Homo sapiens: one gene and its partner. The protein of the gene in region 1 purifies or fractionates together with the protein of each later gene. This does not show direct contact. Each region holds a gene or a part of one and is shown on either strand. Other genes may lie near its edges. The genes, in order: RTP4 and TMEM245.

Evidence for each region.
Region 2: the proteins of RTP4 (region 1) and TMEM245 purify together in Homo sapiens (affinity purification with mass spectrometry; one large-scale study listed by BioGRID and IntAct). This does not show direct contact.

Annotation. Positions count from the first base shown.
Region 1 is NC_000003.12:187,367,034-187,371,184, forward strand, and holds the start of RTP4 (receptor-transporting protein 4), read left to right. Parts: upstream 1-1,351; 5' UTR 1,352-1,408; coding exon 1,409-1,563; intron 1,564-3,754; coding exon 3,755-4,151. UniProt on the Homo sapiens protein: Chaperone protein that facilitates the trafficking and functional cell surface expression of some G-protein coupled receptors (GPCRs). Promotes functional expression of the bitter taste receptor TAS2R16.
Region 2 is NC_000009.12:109,032,660-109,036,687, reverse strand, and holds part of TMEM245 (transmembrane protein 245), read left to right. Parts: intron 1-307; coding exon 308-482; intron 483-3,186; coding exon 3,187-3,381; intron 3,382-4,028.

The DNA of each region.
Region 1 (4,151 bases):
TGAGTTTCTTCCTTCTGGTGGGTTTATTGTCTTGCTGGCTCAAGAGTGAAGCTGCAGACCTTCCGGGTGAGTGTTAACAGCTGATAAAGGCAGAGCAGACCCAAACACTGCGCAGCAGCAAGATTCATTGCAAAAACCAAAAGAACAAATCTTCCACCACGTGGAAGGGGACCCGAGCCGGTTGTCAGTGCTGGCTGGGGCAGCCTGCTTTTATTCTCTTATCTGGCCCCACCCACATCCTGCAGATTGGTCCATTTTACAGAGAGCCAATTGGTCTGTTTTACAGAGAGCTGATTGGTCCGTTTTGACAGGGTGCTGATTGGTGCATCCACAAACCCTGAGCTAGACACAGGGTGCTGATTGGTGCATTTACAAACCTTGAGCTAGATACAGAGTGCCCATTGGTGTATTCACAATCCCTTAGCTAGACATAAAGGTTCTCCAAGTCCCCACTAGACTCAGGAGCCCAGCTGGCTTCACCCAGTGGATCCCGCCCCGGGGGCAGCAGGTGGAGCTGCCTGCCAGTCCTGCGTGTGTGCCCGCACTTCTCTGCCCTTGGGCGGTCGATGGGACCAGGCACCATGGAGCAGGGGGTGGCACTCGTCGGGGAGGCTTGGGCCATGCAGGAGCCCAGGGTGGGGAGACTCAGGCATGGCGGGCTGCAGGTCCCGAGCCCTGCCCCACAGAGAGGCAGCTAAGGCCCAGCGAGAAATCGAGCTCAGTGCCGGTGGGCCGGCACTGCTGGGGGACCTGGCGCACCCTCCGCAGCTGCTGGCCCAGGTGCTAAGCACTTCACTGCCCAGGGCTGGGGGCCTGCCGGCCGCTCCGAGTGCAGGGCCCGCCAAGCCCACGCCCACCCAGAACTCTAGCTGGCCTGCAAGCCCTGCATGCAGCCCCGGTTCCTGCCCGTGCCTCTCCCTCCACATCTCCCAGCAGGCTGAGGGAGCCGGTTCTGGCTTTGGCCTACCCAGGAAGGGGCTCCCACAGTGCAGTGGCTGGCTGAAGGGCTCCTCCAGCGCGGCCAGAGTGGGCACCGAGGCCGAGGAGGCTCCGAGAGCGAGCGAGGGCTGCGAGGGCTACCAGCATGCTGTCACCTCTCACTTTGCCTATTATAAAAAATGAGAGAGAGAAAATAAAAGCGAATTTATATGTGACCCCAGAATCTAGAACAGAGCTCTTTATCTCTCTCTCAGCAAGGCCTATTAACTAACACAGTTTTGCTGCTGTCTGTTTTCAGAACAAAGACTTGTTCTGTGTACTCAGACAGTCTAAAATGAAGGTTGAAAAAAACAGCTCATGTCCATACACAGAAACAGAAACTGAACCGAACACCGAAACTGAAACTGTTTGTCTCTTCCTGAGAAACGAGCAAACCTGAAAGCTACTCTCTCAGCTTCAGAGGGAAAAAATGGTTGTAGATTTCTGGACTTGGGAGCAGACATTTCAAGAACTAATCCAAGAGGCAAAACCCCGGGCCACATGGACGCTGAAGTTGGATGGCAACCTTCAGCTAGACTGCCTGGCTCAAGGGTGGAAGCAATACCAACAGAGAGCATTTGGCTGGTGAGTGTGGGTTTCCCAGGCAATAGCTCTTCTGAGAAGAGAGGCTCAGGCTCAGCTTAGCATGATTTATTCCTCTGAGAGCTTGTTGAAGGAGTAAATGTCACCAGGGCCTCCATCCTATTGTGGTCATAGTACTCTTTAGGGTCGACATGATAAGACGACTCCAAACCTCCATTTTGTTTAACTGCTGGAAGTTTCTTCTTTTACTAGGTTTCCCTCCGTAAATATTTCTGGAAAACCCTGGAGAAGGCTCCCTATTCCATAAATTTTCCCTTCTAGTTTCTCACCACGTCATTTGTTCCAGACTACCTCTAGAGTCTTTTGCAGTCTCCCCAGCAGTCCTGACCAGCTTCCCCCAGCTGCACCAGCTCTCCAAGCCTTGGCACTGTTCAGTACAAGCCTGGGACGGAGCCTTTTTTTTTTTTTTAAATATCTTAAGAATTGGCTAAGATCAAGCAGTTACTCTGAACATTGCTTTACTGAAGGCCTGGGGATAATAGTATAGAATGATGTTGCAAAAACTAAATCTAAAACCCAGTTCATGGAGTCACCAAGTAATACTCCTCCCTTACTCACCACTTCCCTCTTTAACCCCCAGCAAGCCTCCAGGTTGCAGGAACCAGTTTCCTTGACCATGTTAGGAGGGTGAGAATTGCTGACCTGGATAATCAAATTTATTTTTAAATGACACACAGGACCTTCGGTATAGTTTTCATCTGACCTATTACTCAGCTTGCCTGCCTGCCCCATCCTGCCTCAGGTATGGCCTACTCCATTCCTTATGGACTATTAGCTATGCCATGCATCTTCAGACTTCCACACTCTTGTTCATGGAGTTCTGCTTGTTCAGCAGACCCTCCCCTCACCCCTCCCTGCTCATCCTTCAAGGCCCACTCTAGTGCCTCCTCCTCCTAAAAGCATTCTCTGGTTCTCCTAGGCAGAGTAAGTATTCCTTCGTATACATTCCCATAAGATAATGGGATAAGATAAAATATATATGTATATGTATACATAAATGATATATAATTATATATACATATGTACTATGTATTTCAGAATAATAAATTTATAAATAATATATGTATTATTATATATTGTATCAAATACAGTATATGCTTATTTTTAGCTGCAGAATCTGTTGTTTAAATAAAGCCTCCTAAACGTCTCCAGAACAGTTCTCAAGTCACTTGTCAGAGCCCGTATAGCAGTCATGTTGCTCTGCTTTCTAATCCAGGGAAATGTGTAAATATTTCTGTCCACACCAGCCAGAGCTTTTTGAGGGACTCATGATGTCTTACAACGTTTTGGCACTCCTCCAAACAGAAAGAAGGTGTTTCTCCTGTTGGGATGATTTGATTTGATTGTCATTTCGAGATCGGAAAAGCAACCTACCAGTGTACTTTTGGAAAATATCAATCAGCTTTTGAAAAGCATTTTGTAGTTTACAAAGTGTTTTCACATACATCGTCTCTTTTGATGCTGCCAATATAACCCTTGAATTTTTTTTTTATGGATTCAAACAATGAGGGTTATAGAAGGGAAGGGCTTTGCCCAAGGTCTTCCTGATGTAAACTGGATCTTCAACCCAGGTATGAGGGATGCAGTCTGTTTCTCCAGGTGTGAGAGATTAGCTACACTACTCACCAGAGGCAACGTGTTACAGCAGGTAAATGAGTTGAATTTCAGATGGCCTGAGATTAGCAGCATGCCTCTAACATTTACCCTGTGTGTCCTTAAGCAGGTTGCGTATCCTTTTCATGATTCAGTTTCCTTATCTGGATATTGGGTTTAATAGTGCTTACTTCACAGATGAAATGGGATAAAATTATAAAGACCAATTATATTGTATGCATCAAAATAGATACTTTACCAAAGCTTTCTATGACCAAAATTAGGAATAAGTTTCTCTGGAAGATGGCAGACATGATTTTCCCTCAGAGGCATCTGGAGATGTTTTACTAGCAAAGAGGTAGACTTGGGTGTAACATATGGGTGGATACTCAGTAGGTCACAGGAAAAAGCCTTATCTGAAACATAGTCCTTCTTGTTCCTGTTTATCAATGACTGGGACAATCTAAATCACATGCATTTTTTCAAATGGAAAAGGATGTTAGTGACAGGGGCCAAGACCATTTTCCCTCAGGTTAACAACCAGATGAAGGCATAATGGGTGTCTTCCTTCTGACTGCAGGTTCCGGTGTTCCTCCTGCCAGCGAAGTTGGGCTTCCGCCCAAGTGCAGATTCTGTGCCACACGTACTGGGAGCACTGGACATCCCAGGGTCAGGTGCGTATGAGGCTCTTTGGCCAAAGGTGCCAGAAGTGCTCCTGGTCCCAATATGAGATGCCTGAGTTCTCCTCGGATAGCACCATGAGGATTCTGAGCAACCTGGTGCAGCATATACTGAAGAAATACTATGGAAATGGCACGAGGAAGTCTCCAGAAATGCCAGTAATCCTGGAAGTGTCCCTGGAAGGATCCCATGACACAGCCAATTGTGAGGCATGCACTTTGGGCATCTGTGGACAGGGCTTAAAAAGCTGCATGACAAAGCCGTCCAAATCCCTACTCCCCCACCTAAAGACTGGG
Region 2 (4,028 bases), on another chromosome or scaffold:
GGACCGTATATTAACTATTGATTGATAGTAGCAACTACAGAACCCTTGAATTTTATTGCTTAAGAAGAGATCCATAAATAAGACACACACTTAGAAAGATTTTTAGTATCACATTTTAAGATATTGAGCCTTTACTTAGCTAGAAAATTCAGTTAGATAGGGCATATCATTTCCCTAATATTTGAGTTTGTGAGTATTTAACTTGTTTTGTTGGAAGTTGTTGAGGAGGAGCTACTGCTTAGATTCTTTTGCTTTGTTAGTGTTTTGCTGATGATGTTAAGTTGTTTTTCTTTTACTCTTTTTTCAGCATTAGCAGCAATCCTTGGAGCAGTGCCATTCCTGGGGACATACTGGGCAGCAGTACCTGCAGTTCTTGACCTGTGGCTGACACAAGGGTTAGGATGCAAGGCCATTTTACTGTTGATTTTTCATCTCTTGCCAACATACTTTGTAGATACTGCAATCTACTCTGACATATCAGGGTAAGTAAGCCACAGAATTTCTTATTAGTGAATCATCCAGGCATTTCCGTTTTTTTTTTTTTAAAGGAGGATTTTTTTCTCCTGGGGGTATACAAAAGAACTGGTAGTAGGAATTTTCAGTGAAATAGCCTTTTGTGTTCCCACAAATGAAATTTTCATTGAAAATAGTATTGTTTACAAGGCATGATATTTTGGGGTTTTTTTTTTTTTTTTTGGTTGTTGTTGCCCCAGAGTTCCAGAGCAACTTTTTTTTTTTTTTTTTTTTGAGACAATATCTCTTTCACTCAGACTGCTAGAGTGCAGGGTGCAGTCATGGCTCATGGCAGCCTTGAACCTTGAACTCCTAGGCTCAAGCAGTCCTCCTGCCTTGAACTTCCCAAGGCACTAGGATTACGGGAATGAACCACCATGCCCAGCCAATATTTTCTTATTACATATGTAATATTTATAATATATATGATGTCCTGGGTTAAAACCAAATTGTGAATAATTTTCTCTTGATTTAGTGACATTTAACCTAGAAAAGAATTATGACCAGATGTACATCAAATATTTTAAGTACAGTGAACAGTTAATGATTATTTTTATCTCTTCTTTGGTTTTGGAGAAAATGTTGTTAGATTGTATGTCTGAGGATATCCATGTGAAACCAAATCTCAGCAAGTTAATTTCTGGCAAGCAGAGCTCTCTAAAGATATAATTGGAATGGTTCTATGATAAATACAGGTTAAATCTAAGTCAGAATCAACACTTTAGCCATATAATACAATAAATAAATGTCTGTTTTTATAGGTTTTGACATCTCTTTTAGAAATTGCATTAAGTATATCAAGCCAGTTCTCAGTCACATTAAAACTTGAGAGAGAAAATTAAAAAGCTGAACATCATAGTGTGGTTAACTAGTGTGTCACAGTTGACATTTGAGCAGGAATAAGTATGATTAATACTTAAGTGCTTTTATTTCTTTAAACTTTGCTGTAAATTTTATATTAAGGTTTACAGCTGGAATTAAAGAAACACTGTCTTTTTTTTTTTTTTTTTTTTTTTTTGAGACAGAGTCTCCCTCTATCACCCAGGCTGGAGTGCAGTGGTGCAATCTCGCCTCACTGCAACCTTCGCCTCCCAGGTTCAAGCCATTCTCCTGCCTCAGCCTCCTGAGTAGCTGGGATTACAGGCGTGCACCACCACACCCGGCTAATTTTTGTATTTTTACTAGAGATGGGATTTCACCATGTTGATCAGGCTGATCTTGAACTCCTGACCTCAAGTGATCCGCCTGCCTTGGCCTCCCAAACTGCTGGGATTACAGGCATGAGCCACGATGCCCGGCCTAAAATACTGTCTTTAAACGTTGTTATTGGGAAATGAAAGGTTTGGCATAAATTGTTTTATTTTTTAATAGGTTAAGCTTTTATTCATAAACTCCCACACGTTTTTATTTTTTTTAAAAAAAGCTTTAAGGCTGAGCATAGTGGCTCAAGCCTGTAATCCTACCACTTTGAGAGGCCGAGGTGGGTGGATCACTTGAGCCCAGGAGCTCAAGACCAGCCGGGGAAACATGGTGAAACCCGTTCTCCACAAAAATATAAAGATTAGTTTGGTGTGGTGGCACATGCCTGTAGTCCCAGCTACTCAGGAGGCTGAGGTAGGAAGATCACTTGAGTCTGGGAGGTCAAGACTGCAGTAAGCTGTGATTGCGGCACTGCATTCCAGCCTGGGTGATGGAGCGGAATAAAAAGCTTTAAGCATTTTTGATAGTTTTCCTTGAATGTGTTGTTTAGGGAAGAAGTTTACTTAGCAAACATGGAATACTGCCCTAAATCATTTTTTTGGAATGAGAAAGACAAACACATTATGAATATAATTTATTGGTTTCCTGAAGACTGGTTCTCCACAAGTCTTACTTTGATTTAGCTGTAATATAGAACATCCTTCCAGGATATTTAGTTATTTGCCCCTCACTGAATTGTTCTTCTCATCTATGTTTAAAACTAGAAACAAACAGAATGTGACTTATTTCCCAGTCCTTCTGATGTCAGTGGTCCTTTCTTGTCATTATCAATGTGCTATGCTACTGTGTTCTGTTTTATTTCATTCCGCTTACATAAGTGATACTGTAATAAGCTGGAGGGCATTTGTGATTCTCCTGTGAAATAGAAATCTTGGGCTTTGTGACAGATATTTTCCTCAGGAGGCCTTTTATCATCACCTATGTTAAAAACTATATTTTAGGAGGTTGCCAAAAGTCTGACCTATGAGTAACAGGGATGCTCTCATTGTTGCTGTCGTCATATAAAAGCATAATTAACTGAATTACATGCTAAATTGTGCTCACTTAATTATCCTTGATGGAGGTTAACTTAACAGGTGACTCCTAACCAGTCCCAAGCCAACATTAACCCATCATAGGCAGGCACCTGTAATGGGTATAAAATATCTGTTAACATTGCTGGCTTTATTCTTTCATTCCTGGAGCTATAAAAAGAGGCAGATGTCATCCATAGGAAAAACAATTGTTGCATCTCAATATTGTTGCATCTCAATATTATTGCAGTCAGTGTTCAGTTGTATGCATCGAGGTGATCTAAAGAAAGCTGATAATATGCTAAAAAGCATAGTGTATTAAAGAATGCACATTGTATTAGAAATGTATTTCAGATTTTTTCCAGTTTTTGTGTGTTAAAGGTCGTGCTCTTTATTCCAGAGGTGGCCATCCTTACCTGACAGGCTTGGCAGTGGCCGGTGGAGCATACTACCTAGGCCTGGAAGGAGCAATCATCGGTCCTATTCTTCTCTGCATACTTGTGGTTGCTTCCAATATCTATAGTGCCATGCTAGTGAGTCCCACGAATTCAGTTCCCACGCCAAACCAGACCCCATGGCCTGCTCAGCCTCAGCGGTGAGTTAAAGCAGAATAATCATAAGCTGTATTTATACATTGAACTGTCCTGTCTCTGTATTTGATAAGTAGCTTCATCCAGACTTGTCAGGATAAAGGTATTTGAGTACCAATGCTGTGATAAAGGTTGCAGAAGACACTAAGTAAATACAAATCGTTGGCAGAGTTTTGGGTTTCATATACCAAGAAAATTTAAAACCTATATTGGGGCCGGGAGCAGTGGCTCACGCCTATAATCCCAGCACTTTGGGAGAACAAGGCAGGTGGATCACCTGAGGTCAGGAGTTCGAGCCCAGCCTGGCCAACATGGCGAAACCCCATCTCTACTAAAAATACAAAAATCAGCCAGGTGTGGTGGCACCCGCCTGTGAACCCAGCTGTTTGGGAGGCTGAGGCAGAAGAATTGCTTGAACCCAGGAGGCGGAGGCTGCAGTGAGCCCAGATTGTGCCACTGGACTCTAGCCTGGGCAACAGCATATAAAAAAAAAAAAAAAAAAAAGACCTATATTGGGTGAGAATTGTTAATGTCTTGAAAAGCCAAAAATAAATTTAAAAAATCTAATTCTATGCGGGACATGGTATACCAGATTGAAAGAGACTCAAGAAATGGACAACCAGGCCAGATGTGGTGTGGCTCATGCCTGTAA